Linked DNA regions of Homo sapiens. The protein of the gene in region 2 interacts with the protein of the main gene of each other region in a pairwise test. Each region holds a gene or a part of one and is shown on either strand. Other genes may lie near its edges.

Region 1 (7,028 bases), on a different chromosome or scaffold from region 2:
GGCAGCTTTCTCGGTTTGTAGGTTTGGGGAAAATATCCTGCCCTGGAGGGGAAACCCCATCTTGCCCAAAGCGTGTAGTCAGCATTTCTGCATTTCCCAGGTCTCAGGAAGGAGGTGGCAGGGGAACCTGGGAACAGGGTGGTTTGAGGTGACCTTGACCATGGCCCTGAACCTTAGGGGGACAGAGATGCCAGAGTAGCGTGAGTGCCTGGAGAATGATTAGGGAGCAGCAGGCCCATGGGAAGCTGGCTTCACCCATTAGGTGGGCAGGATTCAGGGAATGACTGCTTTCCCCAAATGCCCTTTCCCAGAAATGCAGATGGCTCAGCAAGCCGCAGCCTCTTAAGAAGCCTGTCCCAGCTCATCCTCCAGGAGAGCTTTCCTTCTCCTTAGCTCTGGTGCTCATTCTGGGGGATACCTTGGGCCAGGAAGCCAGGAATGATTTTGGACATTGTCCCTCTCCGATCTGGTCATTTTCAAGGGAATACTAATGCCCTGGCAGGGCAGACTGTGTGTAAAAAAGGGATGGGATGGCCTAATGGATATGAAGAAGAGTGCATCAGAGGAGGGCCCTCATGGCAAAGGAACCCAGTGGGTCTAACCCAGTGAAGGTCACCAGGGGACCTTCCTCCACGCGTGGCTCCAGAGCTGGGCTTAGGAGCCTGGCTTAAGAGATGGGACCCAGCTCTGGGTGTTACCTGTGAGTGAAGGTTGATGGAGGGCTGGTTGGGGGAGTAGGGCCCCCCTAGATCATTCCTGAGCAGGTTGTCGCTGTGCATCTTGGTTTTGAGGCAGGTGATGTAACGGTTACAAAAGTCCTTGCAGAGTTCATTGACTTTCTCCAGCTCCAGCAGGTGGATTCTCAGGACCTGGATTGCCTTCACCATCTGTGGAGAGGGAGGAGAGGTGAGCCCAGGTGTTTGCATCCCATTTCCCTCACTGCCTGGACCCCCAGCCCCCACCACCCCAGGGGAGGGGAGCCCACCCCCTGCCGTAGCTCATGCTTCCTACACTTGATCTTGGCCAAAAGGCCCAGAAGTGGTAGGCGGTGCCTTCTCATCCCCATGACTTCAGTTCTAATGATGGCTCTCTGCTAATTATTCCTTTGCTCTGAGCCCTCTGTTATCACAGCTGTTCTTGAGGCAGTTGTGGTATTCTGAGAACAGCATTGGCCTTAGCGATGGGAGGCCAGGTCCAAGCCCCCGGCCTGTCATTTACTATCTGTGTGAGCTTGGGCAAGTTGCTCAAGCTCTCTGTGCCTTAGTGGCTAACAAATGGGGATAATTAGATTCTCCCTGACAACTTTACAGGTTTGTTGTGAGTATTGTATGAGGGCGTATACATGGTAGCACATTGTGAGGTGTGAAGGACCAGGCAAGCCTGAGGAAGATGGAGATCAGAATTTCTTATAAGTGCCTCTAGAGCTCAGGGACTGTCTATTCTTAAACAAGCATTCTGAGTGCCTCATGGGATACCGGTTACCTTGTGGACGCTCTGTGGATACTTGCTGATGGACTGAATAATCCAGCATGACTTAGCTGGGCACCAGCTACCTCACTGTCTGCTGTGGCCTTTTCCATGCCCTTTGGATTGCTGTACGGGAGCCTGCTGCCTCTTCAAATGGACATTCCTAACCTTTTCGTGGCAAGAAGCTATTTTGCAATTGAAGCTTTGCTCTTTACTGCTGTTATTATCATAAAAAGAAAATACTATGGAAGGTATGGAAAGCAGGGTGAAAAAAACCTGTCTTCGATCCAATCGCCTTAAAGAATGATTTTTTCCTACACCCATATATTTTAACATAGTTTCAATAACCTTGTGCATGCAATTTTGTTTTCTGTTTTTTCCCTCTAGTTTAGCAAATCTATTTTTCTAAGTGCCAGAATTGTTTTCTCTATCCTCTCTTCTAGACTATGAGCTTTGAGAAGGCAGGGATGATGTCTAATTTGCTCACCATGTTATCTTCAGCACGAACACATATGGATATGGAGTAAACATTTGCTGAATGGGTGAAAGTTATTGAGTAAACATATTTTTAAATGTTGCATATTATTTCATGTGTGTGCCATACTTAACCAGTCTCCTATTGTTAGGTATTTAGATTACTTCCAATTTTTCAATTTTATAAAAAATGTTACAGTGAATATTTTCTAAGCTTATAGCTTTTTTTTTTTTTTTTTAAAAGTTTCTGCATTATTCTTTAGGATGAATTCCCAGAAGTGACAGGAAAAAAAGCTATGAACGTTCTTGTGGATTATGATAAATATTGCCAAATTGCTTTTCAACAGGGGGTTGTTCAAATGGTGCTAGAATAATTAGACATCCACATGCAAAAAAACTGAATCTTGATTTAAACCTCATACCTTAGATGAGATTAACTCAAAATGGATCAAAGACATAAATGTAAGACAGAAAACTATAAACCTCTTAAAAAAAAACAGGAAAAAATCTTCAGGATCTAGGGTGAGGCAAAGAGATCTTAGAGTTGACACCAAAAGCATGATCCAGGCTGGGCACAGTGGCTCACGCCTGTAATCCCAGCACTTTGGGACATCGAGGCAGGAGGATCACTTGAGGTCAGGAGTTTGAGACCAGCCTGGCCAACATGGTGAAACCCCATATCTACTAAAATTACAAAAATTAGCCAGTGGTGGTTGTGCATGCCTGAAGTCCCAGCTACTTGGGAGGCTGAGGCAGGAGAATCGCTTGAACCCAGGAGGTGGACGTTACAGTGAGCCGAGATGGAGCCACTGCACTCCAGCTTGGGCGACAGAGCGCAACTCCATCTAAAAAAAAAAAAAAAAAAAGATGATCCAGTGAGGAACTGGACGCTGTCAAAATTAAAAATGTTTACTCTTCAAAAGACCCTGTGAAGAAGAGGAAAAGACTACATACTGGAGGAGAATATTTGCAAACCAAGTACCTGACAAAGGACTTGTATCTAGGATATATAAAGAACTCTCAAAACAAAACAGTAAAATAACAAGCAACCCAATTAGAACATGGTCATAAGACATGATTAGACATTTCACTGAAGAGGATATACAGATGGCAAATAAGCACAAGAGAAGATATTCAATGTCATTAGTCACTAGGGAAATGCAAATTAAAACCACAATGAGATATCACTACACACCTATTGGTATGGTTAAAATAAAAGAAATAAATATGACAACACCAAATGCTGGTGAGGAACTGGAGACTAGAACACTCAGACATTGCTGTTAAGAGTGTAAAATGGTACAGCCACTCTGGAAAACAGTATGACAATTTCTTACAAAACTAAATATGTGCGTACCATATGACCCAGCAATTGTACTCTTGGGCATTTATCCCAGAGAAATAAAAACATATGTTCTTACAAAAACCTGTATACAAATTGTTCAAAGCAGCTTTACTTCTAATAGTCAAAAATCGGAAACAACCCAAATGTACTTCAATGGGTGAATGGATAAAGAAACTGTAATTCATCCATATCATGGAATATAACTCAGCAATAAAAAAGAATGAGCTATTGATATGCCCAACAATGTGGATAGATTGCAAGGGAATTTTCCTGAGAGACAAAAGCCAGTCTCAAAGGATTATATACTATATGATGCCATTTACAAAACGTTTTTGAAATGACAAAATTATAGAGATGGAAGACAGAAAGACAGATTAGTGGTTGACAGCGGTAGAGTGGAGGAGGGAGGGAGGAACTGTTCTGTACTTTGCTATAACAATGTTTATGTGGATCTAAGTATATGATAAAATTGCACAGAACTAATTACATGTACACACACACACACACACACACACGAGGGCACGTAAAACTGGTGAAATCTGAATACAGTTGGTGGATTGTTCCTGGCTGTGAAATTGTGCTATGGTTATACAAGATGTGAATCAGGAGCTCTCTGTATGAGTTCTTATAACTGCATGTGAATCTACATTTATATCAAAATTAAATGTAACCGCTAGGAGCGGGTGATGCTTATTGCTTTTCCAGATCCATTTATGTTGACGCAAGCAATATATGGGATCTCTTTTTAGTCCCACCCTCCTAGCTTTTGGCTAGCTCCTGGATGCCTAGAGGAGAGTTTGGACAATATAAAAAGGGATGGAAACAAGGAAGGAAATCTCTCCCAGAGAATTGTGACTGTGAGGTGTGTGTAGAGAAGTGTGGCTTGAAGCCAGCATTACACCCTTCTCTGAGCCTCATTGGCATTTCAAGTGGGGAGCCCACATTCCCTGGGCTGGGCTTGTGGCTTGTCTGATGAGCAGGGATTGTGCTCAACTAATTAAGGGTTTTTGGAGTACTAAATTAGACCAAGTGTCACTCAAAGACAGAAAGCAGCGATTGTGTGTCGTCATGCAGGGCTCAGTCACAAGGTCTCCTCCTAAGAAGTACCACCTCTGTGGGGCTGAGACTGAGGGAGACTGAGCCATCCTAAGCAAAGAGGAAAATTGTGACTTTAGAATGGATCATTTGGACCCCAAAGTGGAGTTAAGTACTTAATAAAGATTTGTTCTTGCCTAATGTTCTACTTGACTTTGGCCACGAACATCTTGGTCTATGTCTCTCAGTGTAATGAGCACAGGATAAGGTACTTAACACATATGCGTTGCTGGATTGTTAATAATACCCAAACGTTTCTTATTCAGACTGTGTCTCAGGCACTGTGTTAAGCCCATTCCAGGCCTTATTTATTCCACACAACCATCTCATTAAGTAGGTACCATTATTGCTCATATTTTGCATTTGAAGAAAATAAAATCCAAAAATATTACGTTTCCTTGCTTAGAGTCACACAACTGGTGAGCGATATGAAGCCAGGTTGCCCCACCCCCCACCCGTGTGCCTTGTCTTTCAATATGGACTCTCAGGATTATGTAGGTAGAGGAAGTGGTAGTATAAAGGGTGCGTGGTTTGGGAGAAAGTGGCTCAGTGACAGCAAGTACGGGGTTCTAGGAAGCCAAGTAGCTTTTGAGACATCAAAGTTTAGGATTTCCAGAACCCTTCCTGGTAATGTGCCTTTTCTCAGCTGCTCTGATCTCCCATCTCTCACTCCTGGCACAGCCCCCCGGGGTCCAAACACCTCACCAACACAGGTGCCTGCTTCTCCATGTGCACACGGAGAGGGCTGGACTGTCAGGTCCCTTACGTTTTCTGACTCTCTGAACATTACCAGGACTTCTGCCCTCAATTCACGCCTGATGGTGTTAGAATGAACCCCACACGGTGACCTGGACCAGCCTCTAGGTGGCTGCACAGTCCAAACTCATCAGGACACAGGCTGCATCTTCTCCTCCAGCCTCTCCCGGTCACTGGGCGATGACCTTGTTGCCTCGGACCTTCTCCATATTCTCTCAGTCTGCTGATTAGAAGCTTTTCCTTATATTCAATCAAAATCTCTCCCGCCTTAATGTAAAGTGCCTTCTGTAGGCACCAAGAACATCGAGGAACTTCTAGGACCTCTATCAACACAACTTCTTTTTAATTTAATTTTATTCATTCAACAAGTATTGAGTCTTACTATATGCCACATATTGGACCAGGCATCTGACTTGAACAAGTTGTTCAATTAACTTTCTCTTCTCTCTTTTTTTTTTTTTTTTTGAGACGAGTCTTGCTCTGTCGCCCAGGCTGGAGTGCAGTGGCGCGATCTCGACTCACTGCAAGCTCCACCTCCTGGTTCACGCCATTCTCCTGCCTCAGCCTCCCAAGCAGCTGGGACCACGCCCGCCACCACGCCGGGCTAATTTTTTTTTTTATGTATTTTTAGTAGAGACAGGGTTTCACTGTGTTTCCCAGGATAGTCTCGATCTCCTGACCTCATGATCCGCCCACCTTGGCCTCCCAAAGTGCTGGGATTACAGGCGTGAGCCACCGCGCCCGGCCAAACTTTCTCTTTTCTAGACAAAAACGATCGTCATTCCTTAAACCTTTCTTCTCTTTCCCTTCCCCGTTCCTTCTTTCCTCCCTCCTTTCTTTCCTTTTTTCCTTCTTTCTCACACACATACATATATTCACACATACACAGAGAAAAGTGCACTTACCTATTCATTTATTTTAAATATATAACCAATTTATACTTACTTTATAAAATCAGAAAATACAGGTAAGTAAAACAAAAGTAAAATATACTCAGAAGAGCTTTGCTCAAATAAAATACACGCACAGCATGTTTAAACCAGGTCTGGTGCACAGTGACCAAAAGTGGACTTATCCTTTGGTCTAATAAAGTGCAGCTGAAGGATTACTTTTTTATGGGCTAATGGAATTGGTTGAAAGATTTAAGGAGGTAGAGTAAATCATAATGGTATTCTGAGGCAATGAATATGTAGGACCTGTTCAATATTAGAAAGGTAGGCAACACTATCAATGTTAGAGGGCTGCCTGGCAGGGCAGGAACACTGTGGGTTCATTGTCAGGCAGCCTGGATTTGAGTCCGAGCCCGCTCTCTGTTAATTGGGTGCCGTTGGGCAAATTCCATGATTTCTCTGAGCCTCAGTCTCTTTACGTGTAAAATGGGGATAATGTTCATCTCTAACTCACAAGATTTGAAAGGGGCTAAAGGAGATAATGATGTAAACATGCTTTATAAACCACAGTAAACCAAATGCATGCAAGTTGTAAAAATAATCTCTTCTAATAATGTCTGATATCCCATTGGCTTTTCTACTGCTATTCTACGTCCAGCCAGTGAAAAAATAGTAACTCCAAGGGTCTTTTTTGCTCCCATATTTGTGTTTAGTAAATCATCCTCTATCCTGTGTTTACAATTTTGGATTTTTGTCTCCAAGTTAGAAAATTCTGATTTATTAAACTATTTTTCTAAATGATCGGGGTCATGTGAAAATTTATTCCAAATCTTCTAGGGCAATAACAATGCCACTTAATTCAACATCACCGCCAAATGTGGTGAATGCATCCTTAATTCCTCTCCCCAGGTGTTGCTCCATCTTTCAGCTTCTTTCCCTCCCTTCTCTTTCAAAATAATGATTCAGCCCTCTTTTTCTAAGAAGTCTGCATCAAAAAAGCA
Region 2 (7,028 bases):
GAACTTCTCATGCAACGAGTCCTTCAGCACTTTGGCAATGAAGCGCATCCCATAACTGCGGGATGGACAAAACTTAGTGAGAAGGGCCAAGGAGCAGAAAGGCACTTAGTGCTGGGTTCTACTGGGGGTCATGACAACTGATGGCACTCACGGGATTTTGTCCACAGAGCTGACAATGGCTGAGAGAAACTTGTCTGTCACAGCCCGCATGTTCCTGATGGAGCTGTCTAGCCGTGTCTTCACTTCTTCATGAGCTAGCGCCTGCTCAGGGGTCACATCATAGGGCAGTTTGCTGGGAAGACAGAAATTATACCCAACTATGTTAGACTAACAGCCAGGAACAGCCTGAAGCAAGTGTCTTATCTTTCATAAACTATAAGACCCAGAAATATTAGATAGCTTAAGCTCATCCTCACGGGGCTGGTAAGTGATAAGTCTAGAATCTGAACGCAGGTTTTTAACTGTGAATCAGGTGCCTGAATTGTGTGCCAGGCACAATAACAGGCACTTGGGAATAAAAGTTATACAAGACATGACACCTTCTCTTCAGTCTTTTACAGTCTGGTGGGAGCGACACACAAACAGATGATTATAAACCTATTGTGCTGTAAATCAGTTCACCAAAAGTGCCACAGGACCATAGGGAAAGGGCTTCAACTCAGAATGGAAAAAGCAAGGAAAGCTTCCAAAACGAAGGGATGCTTGAACTCAGGAAAAAAGGAGAGGAAGAGTCTTCTAGGAAGGAAGGGGAGACAGGAGAAATGACAGTGGAAAAGCAGACAGGGAGCAGGCCATGACAGACCCCGTATATGATACTGACAAATCTGGACTTTGTTAGAAACCAGAAGGAGGTCTTCAAGGATAGGAGTGCTATGCCAGGCACAGCAGCACATGCTAGCATTCCCAGCTACTAGGAAGGCTGAGGTGGGAGGACTGCTTGAGCAAGACCTTGTCTTAAAAAAAAAAAAAAAAAAAAAAAAAAGAGGCAGAGAGAGCTTTGGTACACACAGAAGGGGAAGAGAAGGCAATGTGACCACAAAGGCAGAGGCTGGAACCACACAGCCACAAGTTGAGGGATGTCAACAGTCACCACAAGCTCTAAGAGTCAAGAAACAGAGTTTCCACTAGAGCCTCTGCAGGGAGCGTGGCTCTTCCAGCACCTCGACTTCATGATAATGGTTTCAAATTTCTGGCCTCCACAATTGTGAGACCATGACTTTCGGTTGTTTTAAGCCACCCAATTTGAGGTGATTTGTTATGGCAGCCTTAGAAAATACAAGTAGAGGCCGGGTGTGGTGGCTCACGCCTGTCATCCTAGCACTTTGGGAGGCCGAGGCGGGTGGATCACCTGAGGTCAGGAGTTTGAGACCAGCCTGGCCAACATGGAGAAACCCCATCTTTACTATAAATACAAAAATTAGCCAGGCGTGTGGCGCATGCCTGTAATCCCAGCTATTCGGGAGGCTGAGGCAGCAGAATCGCTTGAACCAGGGAGGCAGAGGTTGCAGTGAGCTGAGATTACACCATTGCACTCCAGCCTGACCAACAGAACGAGACTCTGTCTCAACCACAACAACAAAAAGAAAAATACAAGTAGATAGGGATACCCCTCTTCATTTGTCATAGCATGGCTAAATTAAAATTGGTAGACTATGAACACAAAAATTCTGCAAAAATCAACAGAAACATTCTATGAGAAATAAATAAATACATGGAACTTAACAATAAAGAATATTGTATATTTTATTATTTATATGAGTTTTAAAAGTAGTAACCAGCAAGGGAATCAATATGCTAAAAAACGTTGGTGATAGAACAGAACATTAACTTTGAGATTTTAGGAAAGAACATTCCCAAGAGGTGACAAGATTCCAGTTTGCTACGTGTATGGTGGCTGAAGTAAAAGAAGAAAGCTAAGGGACCTGTGATGCTTACCTGCAGGACAGATCCCCACCACACCACCATCCCTCACAGTCACTGGTATCTTAAAAAGAGTTCAAATCAATTTCCTTTTTTTTTTTTTTTTTTTTTAAGATATGGGGTCTACATTGCCCAGGCAGTGCTCAAACTCCTGGGCTCAAGCGATCTTCCTGTCTTGGCCTCCTGAGCAACTGGGACTACTGGTGCATGCCACCATGCCTGGCTCAATTTCCATTTTATGAAAGGCAAAATAAGACACCAGTTTCTTATAGGTACCCACAAGAAAACCAATCCTGAAATGTCCAGCGGGCTTTGGATCTGAAAATGACTGACTCATGGACCATCAGAGGAAATAACTGAGAAGCCCGGAGCCAGTGTACATGGGGCTATCGGCAAGGAATGCCCTGGGTTGCAGGCAAAACTTCCCAGACAAGTATTGCACTTGGCTGACCACATTCCTGGATGTGGGCCTCAGGTATGCAGGCAAAAAAATTAAAAAGACTTTTGCAATGATCTGAGTCCTGATAACAGACCTACATGGTACTGAGAACCAATCAGATGCCAAATGATTCCTAATAAGGAAACGCCCCTTCTTTCTTTTTTTGTCAACCAGGATGGAGTGCAGTGGCGCCATCAAGGCACACTGCAGCCTCAACCTCCCATGCTCAACCTATCCTCCTGCCTCAGCCTCTGGAATAGCTGGAACTACAGGTGTGCACAACCACACCCAGCTAATTTTTTTTTTTTTTTTTTTTAAGTAGGGACAAGGTATCCCTATGTTACCCAGGCTGGTCTCAAACTCCTGAGCTCAAGCAATCCTCCCACCTCAGCCTCCCAAAGAGCTGGGATTACAGTCGTGAGCTACCATGGCTGGTGAGATAAGCCCTTTCAAGGAGTCAGCAGAATGTTCCGTTCTCCACCCAGCGTAAAACTCCCTGTTTGCCTGGCATCCGGGTACATGGAAAGTAGAATGAAGAATAGTGTTATTCAAAGTGTGGACCAGTGCCAGTCTACAAACTGATCAAAGACAAGATAAAGACAATGAGTCAGAATGTAAATCAATACATTACTTCCTTCATTAAGAAAATCTTGCTATGAAAAAAAAAGTATCAGTTAAACTAAACAGTGTGCACAGATGATTTTCCATTACTGGTGTGCAAACCACACTTTGAATAGCAATGGTGTGGACAGCTGCTACTCCACCTATGCCCAGAGAGCTTCATGCATGATCTAACTCTACTCCACAACAAGAAAAAACCACAACAGACCATGCTGCTCACACCTCCATCTCCCACCCCTCTGGGTCCTCACCCAAGACAAATAAAACCAGAAACGTTTTGGCATTCTGAACTCCCTTTTCCCAGCATTACCAATATTTGATTGGCACACTTTTGCTTTAGATAAATGAATGTTGGTGGTTACGCTATGGCCCTAGCTCAGCTATCTCCTGTAATACGTTAATTTAATTAGCCCAACTCACGATATTTCAGGGAAGCTCACTCCACACCGTTTTCTTTTTCCTTTAATGAAACACAGTGATCTCACCCAATCTATATGAACCTTCTCATTCAACTGTATCCCTAGTTATGCCAGGGTCCATTTAAGTCCTACACCCTCCAGCTTAGAGTGTTCAGACATAAACACTCTGCACCTAGCTCTTAGTAAGGCTGGGTTCATCTTAGCTTTAGGGCCTCAGCTAAATGAAATTTTATCTTCCGGGATAGGCTTTCCCTAACCACCTTATGTTAGCTCCCTCTTATAAAGTCTCCATTAAAGAACCGTACATAAAACTTCATAAAACTTTCTTCAATGTTTAATTATGCTTTTATTTTTATGTACCTGGTTGGTGTCTCTTCCACCCAATGAACTATGAAGAGAGGGCAGGAAGCATGTCTGTTTCACTCATTATTGCATTACTGTACACATCTCTAACACAATGCCTGGCACATAGTTAATACTCAATAAATATTTGCTAAATAAGTGAATTTATTACTAGGTCAACAACTTAGAAAGCACAGTTTTCTAAAGAAAAACTATTTGAGGCTGGGTGTGGTGGCTCACAGCTGTAATCACAGCACTTTGGGAGGCCGAGGCAGATGGATTGCCTGAGGTCAGGAGTTCGAGACCAGTCTGGCCAACATGGTGAAACCCAGTCTTACTAAAAATACAAAAATCAGACAGGTGTGGTAGCGTGCAACTGTAATCCCAGCTACTCGGGAGGCTGGGGCATGAGAATTGCTTAGACCTGGGAGGTGGAGGCTGCAGTGAGCTGAGATTATGCCACTGTACTCCAGCCTGGACGACAAGAGTGAAACTCTGTCTAAAAAAAGAAAAGAAAAGAAAAACTATTTGAACTAATATTAGTTTATAAATAAAGAGAGGGGAAAAAAGAGGGAAAGACTATAACAACATGAAAGAAAAGTGTCATTATGGTTAACATACCTTGCCTCTCCTGTCTGAGACTCCATCTGATTAACCCAAGATTTGTAAATATCCACAGGGTCAGTTTTGATGTTGAGAGATTTGTCATCCATAATTTCCTTCACGACTGGGGCCAAGATCTGTCTCAGGGCATTCTGGCCACGGGCACCACGGTTGAAACTTACAACCATTTTAATAACCGTAGGATTTCCTGTCACAATCTCTTGAATCTGATCTACCTTCGACCTATAAAACATCAGATAAAAATTTAAACTTGTCACAAAACCCATCAACTTAAAAGATCCTTCCTGCTTAAAGATCCTATCTCCCTGAAACAGTTTCTCTCGAAACATTCCCCAGCACTCACAGAATGTTCCTGCAGCTGCACGCTCAATCGTGGTCATGATTGGGTCCGCTACTAGATAAAAATGTGAATTCTTTCTGTTCAGATTACTTTTTGAAATTATACCTTAATACAGAATGTTCCTAAAGTTAATTTATCCCTTCCCTAGAAGCAGCAAGATTTTATATCAGTTATTTAAAAATTAGATGCTTCTTTAGAGTAAGTATTTTTCATAAATTAATTGAGATCAAGAAAAGATCAGGAAGGCATGAATCTCAAACTGGGAGCCCCTCTGATAGTGGGAAGGGGCCTGTGCCCTGAGGAAATCTGTTCATACTTGATTTCCTCTTGGAGTGCTGTCTTAAAGAGCCGCAGGAGCAGGTACTCCTCTCGCTGGTTGGACGCGTAGTTGTAGAGTGTGAAGATTACAGAGTCCATGAACTTGGTGGACTTGTTCTGGGGCATCTGAAAAATGAGCTTGGCCAGATAGGTGGGATTGGTCTGAAATAAAACCAAGGGATAAGTCATTTGTAGGTAATATAAAGGCTGGCAAGATATATTCAATTATTTAAAATTGAAGGACTACAATACATATGAGAAAAAAGATTAATAAATTAACATGTTACAGTGCCCCTCACTCACCCCTCAGTGGAAGTCAAAAATACTTCCAGAGAGATCGATGGTAAGGCTTTCTTGTGGAAAAATAAATTCACTAAATTTTTATAACACTGATTCCAGGAGCCACTTACTTGCAATAAATAAAACAGGTGCTGGTAAGCTTCCAACTTCTCTCTCTTCTCCTTGCTCAAAGCCTTGAGACCTCCCTTCTGTTTATTTATCATCATCATATCAGACAACTGTTCCTTATTTTTTTTGGTAAGTTTTTTACTGTGGGAAACCACATCCTATAAACAAAAACCAATAAATAGATCAGAAAGCTTTCAAAGATGAACCTCTGGGCATTGAGGAAAGGTTTTGCAGCATGTGCAAACTCACATGAAGGTGTACTGCACTGGCAGATTCCCACTGAATATTTAAAAACCACTACACTTTATCCTGTTTTCAGTACACCAGTCAAATCCATTCCTATGTTCCAACAAAGAATCTGAGCCATAAGAATGTCCACTGAATTGGCAAACCAACTTCCAGCAGTCTATTATAAAAATAAGTCTTAAATACAATAAAAGCTACATATATATTGAAACATTAATTGCAATGTTATTTATAATAAACGCTTGGAAAACAACCTAAATGTCAAATACTAGGGGAAAAAGAGGTAAATCATAGTATATCTTCTAAAAATCTAATATGCTACTGTTAAAAATAATATTTATGGCTGGGTGCAGCGGCTCACACCTGTAATCCCAGCACTTTGGGAGGCTGAGGCAGGAGGATCACCTGAGCCCAGGAGTTTTGAGACCAGCCTGGGCAATACAAAGATACCCTATCTCTTATAAAAATATAATTTGCCAGACGTGGTGGCATGCACCTGTCGTCCTAGCTACTTGAGAGGCTGAAGTGGGAGAATCACTTGAGCCTAGGAGGTCGAGGTTGCAGTGAGTCATGATCATGCCACTGCACTCCAGCCTGGGGTACAGAGGGAAACTCTGTTTCAAAAAATAAAATTAAAAAAAAATTATGACTACTTATCATAGGGAAAGAGTCTTATCCTTTAATATGAAGTAAGAATGTAAGATACAAAATGACTGGGGTAGGTGAAATTAGGGGAAGACATTTATCTTCTTTTCTCTATCAAAATTTTGTCAATTAAGTTGTTTTATGTCTTAAATAATTTTTTTTTTTTTTTTTTTTTTGGAGATAGAGTTTCACTCTGTCACCCAGTCCGGAGTGCAGTCATGCAATCTTGGCTCACTGCAACCTCTGCCTCCCAGGTTCAAGCGATTCTTCCACCTCAGCCTCCTGAGTAGCTGAAATTACAGGCATGTACTACCATGTCCAGCTAATTTTTTTTAATTTTTAGTAGAGACAGGGTTTCACCATGTTGGCCTGGCTGGTCTCAAACTCCTGGCTTCAAGTGATCCGCCCTTCTCGGCCTCCCAAAGTGCTGGGATTATAGGTGTGAGCCATCATGCCTGACCTGTCTTACATAACTTTTTTAAAAGCTTATGATGGCCGGGCATGGTGGCTCATGTTTGTAATCCCAGCACTTTGGGAAGCCAAGGTGAGTGGATCAATCACTTGAGGCCAGGAGTTCCAGACCAGCCTGGCCAACATGGTGAAACCCCCGTCTCTACTAAAAATGCAAAAAAGCCGGGTGTCGTGGCTCACGCCTGTAATCCCAGCACTTTGGGAGGCTGAGGCGGGTGGATCACCCGAGGTCAGG
Region 3 (7,028 bases), on a different chromosome or scaffold from region 2:
TTCTTTCTTCTCTCCCAAGGGCTTTCAAATGGGGAGCATTCAAACAATTACAGAAGCCAACATTTATTGAGCACTCACTATGTGCCAAGCCCTGTGTCATGTGGTTTACTTTCTACTTTTCCAACAACCCTAGAGAGTAGGTATCATTATTATCCCCATTTTCCGAGGGGGAAACCTGGCACAAAGAGGTTCAGCATCTTGCCCCAGAACACCCAGCTCATAAAGTGTAAAGCCTGCCTCTTCACCCAAGCCAACCTTGGGTCCAAAATCTGACTCTATGACACATCAGTAAATTGCTATTTGTGGATCATTTTATGAGCAGTACTACGGTCCTGATGACACTATATATAGCAGTAATTTTGAAACATGGCTTATAATCAGGGCACGATCGCCTTTTAATTGCACCATCATGCCCCTGTCCATAAAGAGAGCCTCGAGTCTTGTCTCATAAAGGAGTAAAGATTATCCTTATTGTAAGAAGCATAACTGTGGCCCATTAAACAGACACACAAATGCCTCCATCCACAGTAATGGTGGGGTTGATACCTTAGCCATGAGAATGTAATTATCTTATGGAACTCATCTTCATGACACTGGAGATGGTAACAGAAAAAGTCTATACACACAGCCAGAAGAACCTCTCAGTCTGTTTAGGGGTGAGAGAGTCTGCAAAGTTCCATGACACACTCAGCATGGGGCTGCCTTAGACACACAGTGGTGACTTGCTCTTTAAAGCATCTCCATTGGCCTTCTTGACTCACTGGTCTCACCTCTTCCTTGCCCTACTGGAACTTCCTGGGAGCACCTCCCAGATAAGCCCTGTGCATTCAAATCCTGACCTAGAGTTGCCTTCTAGGGATTCATGTTGGTGGGGAGCACACAGGACTGAAAGTGGACTGAGGCCAATGACTTGGCTAAGTAAGGGATGCTGTGCACAGACCTATCCCTAACTCGACAAGATCTTCATGGTGACTCTAGTAGCCTCAGCTCTCCTGTTTGGATCAGCCACCTGGTACCCCTTGTTACCGTCATTTCCCAAATCAAAGTAACCTCTGAAAATCAGGACACTCAATTAATTTTAAAGTCAAGGACCTCTTCCATGCAGGGAAACCTAAAATTGGAAATGTGACCTTATCTCTGACTCCAAGGAGACTCCAGTGGACTCTTCCCTCCCCTTCTTGACAAGAAACCAAGGACCCACATGTTCTTACTTGTAAACCCATAATACTAAGACCAACTGAAGCAGGCCAGCAATGTTCACTGACTTTAAGAATATTCCTGGATCAATCGGCTAAGCTCTATTTTAGCCCCAGCCATTGACTGTAAATGTTAAACTCTAACCAACTTTAATGTGATCCATCATCAGTCACCTAAATTTTCAGGGACTTCTATATATCTACATTTTCAGAGGTAACTGACCTCAGAAGAGATTTATTCTAGTTCTAAACTTGACTGTAAACATTTAACAAATACCCAAGCAAGTACTAGGCACCATGCACTGTTTTTGCTACTGGGGATACTGTGGGAGAACAAGACAACATTCCTGCCATCTCAGAGCTTACATTCTAGAGAAAGAGGTAAAATAAGAAATTTACTTGTGGTGAAGCGATCTACATACTATGGAGTAAAATAAAGCTGAGAGGGGGAACAGGGAATGACACGTGGCAGTGGAGTTATGGTTTTCAATAATGTGCTCACAAGAGGCCTCACTGGGCAGGTGACATTTCAGAAAGACTTGAAGCTCAAGAGATAGCAAGCCTGTAAGATGATCAGGTGGGCACTAGCAGGCAGGACAGAGAAAGAGAAGTAATATCCTTAGGACAGGTCACGGGCAGCCTTGGAAGTCACTATAAGGACTTCGGCTTTCACTCAGATACAGAGACTACAGAAATGATTAATAATGGATTATTCCATTATGTAATTACTGAGCCATAAAAAGAGAAGATTTCTATTTAATCATAAAAGACACTGCTCAAATTACATTTTCTAATTTTGCTACATGCCTTCGGAAAAGTTGACATCCAGAACACATTAGACCCTCCACAGGACACTTAACTAGAAAGCAGAGTCAATATGATAGGACCAACCTTGACATCTGTTGAAACAACAAAATGAATTCATAAGAAATACTACATCGATGCCGACCTCCATAGGGGAGAAGTCTAGCAATGCACCAGTGTGTACTAGGGATTTTTCAAGGTTACAGATCTCACATATGAGCTGCAAAAAGACAGGCAGGCATGCAGTAACCTACTTTTTTAGGATGTGAATGTCAGCCCTTAACGAATTTGACAGCCTTTATTCTCAGTGTATACAAAATCAGTATATCCTGTTACTTGTATATACAAACTCAAGGAAAGGGCCACTAACACCAGAGAGTGGTGCTTTGCATTAAATAACCCTCGTTTACAAAGCAACATCCTTCATGTAAACCCTTGTGGTAAGGAGATGTCAGAATGTTTTCTCTTATAAACCACTTAATTCCCCTTGGTGGATATCATCAATTCTGCCATCTAAAACCAGCTGGGTAATGAATGCCAAGAAACACGGTGAGCCAACTGTATGCCATTGCCACAGAAGGTCAAGTTAATCTATTTTTAAATAACACAGCCAATGACAAGGGGTGGCCACTGGAAACGATGGACAAGTGCGTTGTACGTCCTTGCTTCATTTTTTGTAAAACCTGTACAGTGTTCCACAGTGTAACCTAAAAATATCCTTCCAAGAGTGGTCTTTTGGCACCAAGAACAAAAACAGGTTGATTTTTGAAAGTTTAAGTTAAAAAAAAAAAGACATAAATACAAAGTACAATTTAAGAGCGAGAGGGCTAAAATTGGATTGTGTTCTGTAGCAAAGATCTGATTTGCTATTAGCCAAAAAAAAAAGTACACAGGGACAATGCTGCAAGAAAACGGAGGGAAAGAATCATTTTTAGGCATGAGGACACAGGTCCCACATCAACAAAAAAAATCCTCATCATCCTGCCTGCTGAACATCTGAAATTTCACGTTTAGAGGCTCACTTGTTAAACTTCAGTTAGAGTCAACAGGCAGAAATACTTGAATAGGATTCATTAATCCTTGTCAGTCATTTATAGCCCAGTATAAATTATTAGACACAGAAAGCCTGCTAATTGGAAGATCTGATTACGAGAAAGTGAAGACCTCTGGATCCTAAACAAGAAGTAAAAGACAAATCGAGAGAAAGGGAGGAAAGATGTTGCAAGTGGCCTAGTTGCACTTACCTTCCGAAACAATGGAATAGTCATTCAGGCATCCAACCAATTTTAGTGAGCACCTATTATTTGCTGGGTCTTTTTTTTGAGATGAGTCTCACTCTGTCACCCAGGCTGGAGTGCAGTGGCGCGATCTCAGCTCACTGCAACCTCAGCCTCCCGGGTTCAAGCAATTCTCTGCCTCAGCCTCCCTAGTGGCTGGGATTACAGGCGCCCACCACCACGCCCGGCTAATTTTTTTGTTTTTTTTTTTTTTTTAGTAGAGACAGGGTTTCACCATCTTGGCCAGGCTGGTCTTGAACTCCTGACCTTGTGATCCACCCACCTCGGCCTCCCAAAGTGCTGGGATTACAGGCATGAGCCACCACGCCTGGCCCTGCTGGGTCTTTTTTAGACACTGAGAAATACAGCAGTGAACAAGAGAGACAAGCTTCTTGTTTTCATGGAACTTCTATTCTCATGGGAGGGGAAACAGACAATAAAGAAGAAACAGGGCCCGTTGCGGTGGCTCACGCCTACAATCCTAGCACTTCGGGAGGCCAAGGCGGCAGGCAGATTGCCTGAGCTCAAGAGACCAGCCTGGGCAACATGGCGAAACCCCACCTGTACTAAAATACAAAAAATTAGCCAGGCATGGTGGTACATGCCTATAATGCCAGCTACTCGGGAGGCTAAGCATCAGAATTGCTTGAACCCGGGAGGCAAAGGTTGCAGTGAGCCGAGATCGCACCACTGCACTCCAGCCTGGGCAACAGAGCGAAACTCCATCTCAAAAAAAAAAAAAAAAAAAACAACAACAACAACAACAGAAGATAATACGAGATTGTGTCAAGGCTATGAAGGAACAAACAGGGTGAGGGAATGGCACTTTACTCAGGGAGCTATCTTTTGTGTGTGTGTGTGAGATGGGGGTCTCACTCTGTCACCCAGGCTGGAGTGCAGTGGTACAATCTTGGCTCACTGCAACCTCTGCCTCCTGGTCTCAAGCGATTCTCCCACTCTGCCTCCCGAGTAGCTGGGACTACAGAAGTTCGCCACCACGCCCAGCTAGTTTATGTATTTTTTGGTAGAGACTTCACCATGTTGCCCAGGCTGGTCTTAAACTCCTGAGCTCAAGTGATCCACCCACCTTGGCCTCCCAAGGTGCTGGGATTACAGGTGAGCCACCACAAGGGCACTATCTTATATGCAGTCAGTGGTGTGTGGGGGCCAGCTCACATTGGCTTGGGAACAGCAAGTATACGCGTCTCTTCCCAACTCCAGCTATGCTATAAATCAGGGTCTACCCACTACTAGCACTGGTTGTTAAGCATTTTACAGCACACCAGAAGGAGGTCACTGAGGAGAAAGAAGCAAGACCAGAGATTCATGAGAAACCAAACAACTCTGAAAGACAAGGCCCTGTGTTTTAAAATGAGAGTTATTGTCATACATTCCAATGAATCAAAACAATACCAAAACAAAAAACCACACAAAGAACTATATTCAACCATATGTGATCACAATTTCCCTCATTACAGTGAGGGGAAGGGTCTGGTGGTGGTTTGGTTTGGCTTTTAAATTGTATCTCTTTTATTATCTCCACACTGCCACACATACACAAAAAGTAGAGGGATAGTTACAGTTCCTGGGTAATTTGAAAAACCACAAAATTCACCTGCAAAAATATGTAAGCATGACCTGTAATACACCACTTTGGGAAACTACAATCATACCATTTTAAACCTTTGGAGTCTGGGTGATTCATGGAAACAAAGGATTTCACGAGCACAAATAACCTGAAGAGGCTCACCCACTTATTTTTGGCATAGAGAAATGTAGGCTCCAAGAATGTGACTGGCAGAGCTTATTCTAGAACCCAGGTCACCTGTCTCATCTGATGTCATCTTCTCAATTTTGGTCTATACCCTAGTACAGTAGTTCTTAAAACTGAACCCTTGAATCCCTTAATAAGCCCATCAGAATCCCTTGAGGGTTTATTAAAACACCCCATGGTTGTTACCCCACCCCCCAACCCCAACCCCATCCCCCGCAAAGCTTCTGAATTGGTAGAACTAAGGTGGGGCCCAGGAATCTGGATTTCTAACCAGTTCCCAGGTTACTATACTAATGCCACTGGTCTGAGGACCTCACTTGGAGACCTACTGTCCCAGGAATTGGGAGCACAGGCTTTGGAATCAGACAGAGCTGGGTTGCAGCTCTACTGCCACTGTGGTATGACCCTTGGAAAAGTTACCCAAATTCTCTGAACCTCAGCTTCTAACATCTGAGTCCAATTGTAAGGACTGAAAAAGAGAATGCCCACGAAGCATCAGCTTAGCCAAGCACCTATTATATTCTAAGGCAAGATCTTAATACATACTAGCGACATCTTATATCCTGTATCAAAGTTTCCTTAATTACATTTTTCCGAAGCATATACTAGGACGGCTAAAATTCAAAAGACAAACAAAATCAAAGATGGCCAAAGATGTAGAGCAACTGAAACATTAATAACAGCTTTATTCGTAATAGTAAAAAATGGTAAATACTCCAAATGTCCATAAACAAGCAAAAGGACAAACTGGTATGTGTATACAATGGAATATTACTTAGCAATAAAAAAAGAACCAAATGAAGTACACATGCAACAAAACGAAATCTCCAAAATATTTTGTTGAGTAACAAAAGCCAAACACAAAAGAGTACATACTGCATTAGTTCATTTTTATGAAGTTGAAGACAAAATTATTCTATGGTAGATCTATGGTGCAGGGGGAGGGGGGAATTAACTGGACAGGAACATGAGAAAAATTTCTGGGGTGATGAAAATGTTCTCTATCTTCATTTGAGTGATTAACATGAGTGCATACATCGCTTAAAACTCATCAAATTATATATCTAAGATATGCATTTTACTATAGGTAAATGATACCTGAATACACATAATTATATATAACTTTGTAAAGGCATTTTATGACAAAGTACTGTCTTCCCCACTTAAAATGAACCAACTCCAACCTGACAAAGGACTGTCTTCTCCATTTAAAATGAACCAAGTCCAACCTGGCAGATCCATTGAGTTTGATTCCTGCACAATCCAGTCCTGTCACAGACAGTTTTGGTCCATGTATCTTTCCAGAGAACTGCCATGAAGTAGAAAAACAGAATTTTCTCCCACCATGTAGACAGTATCCAGAGTGATCTGTGTCCCTGGAAGTGGCTAACTTGGGATGCAAACAACACAAAAGTAGTATTTTTCTTTACCATATACCAAGTATGAGCCTGCTTGATATGACTTTAAAAGGCACAGTAATGAAGACACATTAAGAGCAATTCTGTCATACAATCTAAATCATATTCTCAACATGGAAGAGGGAGCAGAAAACTGGTGAAATGGTTTCTAGGGCCATCATTACTGGTAATGAAGACGTCAGAAGATCCAACTGTGCCTGTGTAATTATTACATGAAATAGTCACTTTCAGACTGCAATGAATTCCAGGCCATTCAGGTTTCCCAATCAGTATCATATTTCTATCCCATTACAAGTAGATTCACGTACATCCATCCATACATACATATACACACACACACAGAAACATACCCACACACTCGCCCCTGCTGTGAACAATCTGTGCACAAGGGGTGAAGAGAGCTAACACCTGGAGACACTACAGTTTCCTTTCAACTCAGAGGTGTCTGTTTCCAAACCCACTTGATTATCTCACCAAGCCTTCCTAAACTCCATGATGAGAGAGCCCTGGGACATCGCCTCCCAGAAATTTGGCAACTAGTGGAAGGAAGAGACACAAG

What was found. The genes of interacting proteins can lie anywhere in the genome.
Region 1: the proteins of IQGAP1 (region 2) and PKNOX2 interact in binary tests that used the Homo sapiens proteins (3 or more experiments, as listed by UniProt).
Region 3: the proteins of IQGAP1 (region 2) and MAGI1 interact in binary tests that used the Homo sapiens proteins (3 or more experiments, as listed by UniProt).

The regions. Positions count from the first base shown.
Region 1 is NC_000011.10:125,391,733-125,398,760, reverse strand, and holds part of PKNOX2 (homeobox protein PKNOX2), read right to left. Parts: intron 2,787-7,028; exon of another isoform or gene 2,665-2,786; intron 888-2,664; coding exon 699-887; intron 1-698.
Region 2 is NC_000015.10:90,475,224-90,482,251, reverse strand, and holds part of IQGAP1 (ras GTPase-activating-like protein IQGAP1), read right to left. Parts: intron 5,590-7,028; coding exon 5,434-5,589; intron 5,186-5,433; coding exon 5,022-5,185; intron 4,588-5,021; coding exon 4,363-4,587; intron 293-4,362; coding exon 152-292; intron 56-151; coding exon 1-55. UniProt on the Homo sapiens protein: Plays a crucial role in regulating the dynamics and assembly of the actin cytoskeleton.
Region 3 is NC_000003.12:66,028,909-66,035,936, forward strand, and holds part of MAGI1 (membrane-associated guanylate kinase, WW and PDZ domain-containing protein 1), read right to left. Parts: intron 1-7,028. UniProt on the Homo sapiens protein: Plays a role in coupling actin fibers to cell junctions in endothelial cells, via its interaction with AMOTL2 and CDH5. May regulate acid-induced ASIC3 currents by modulating its expression at the cell surface.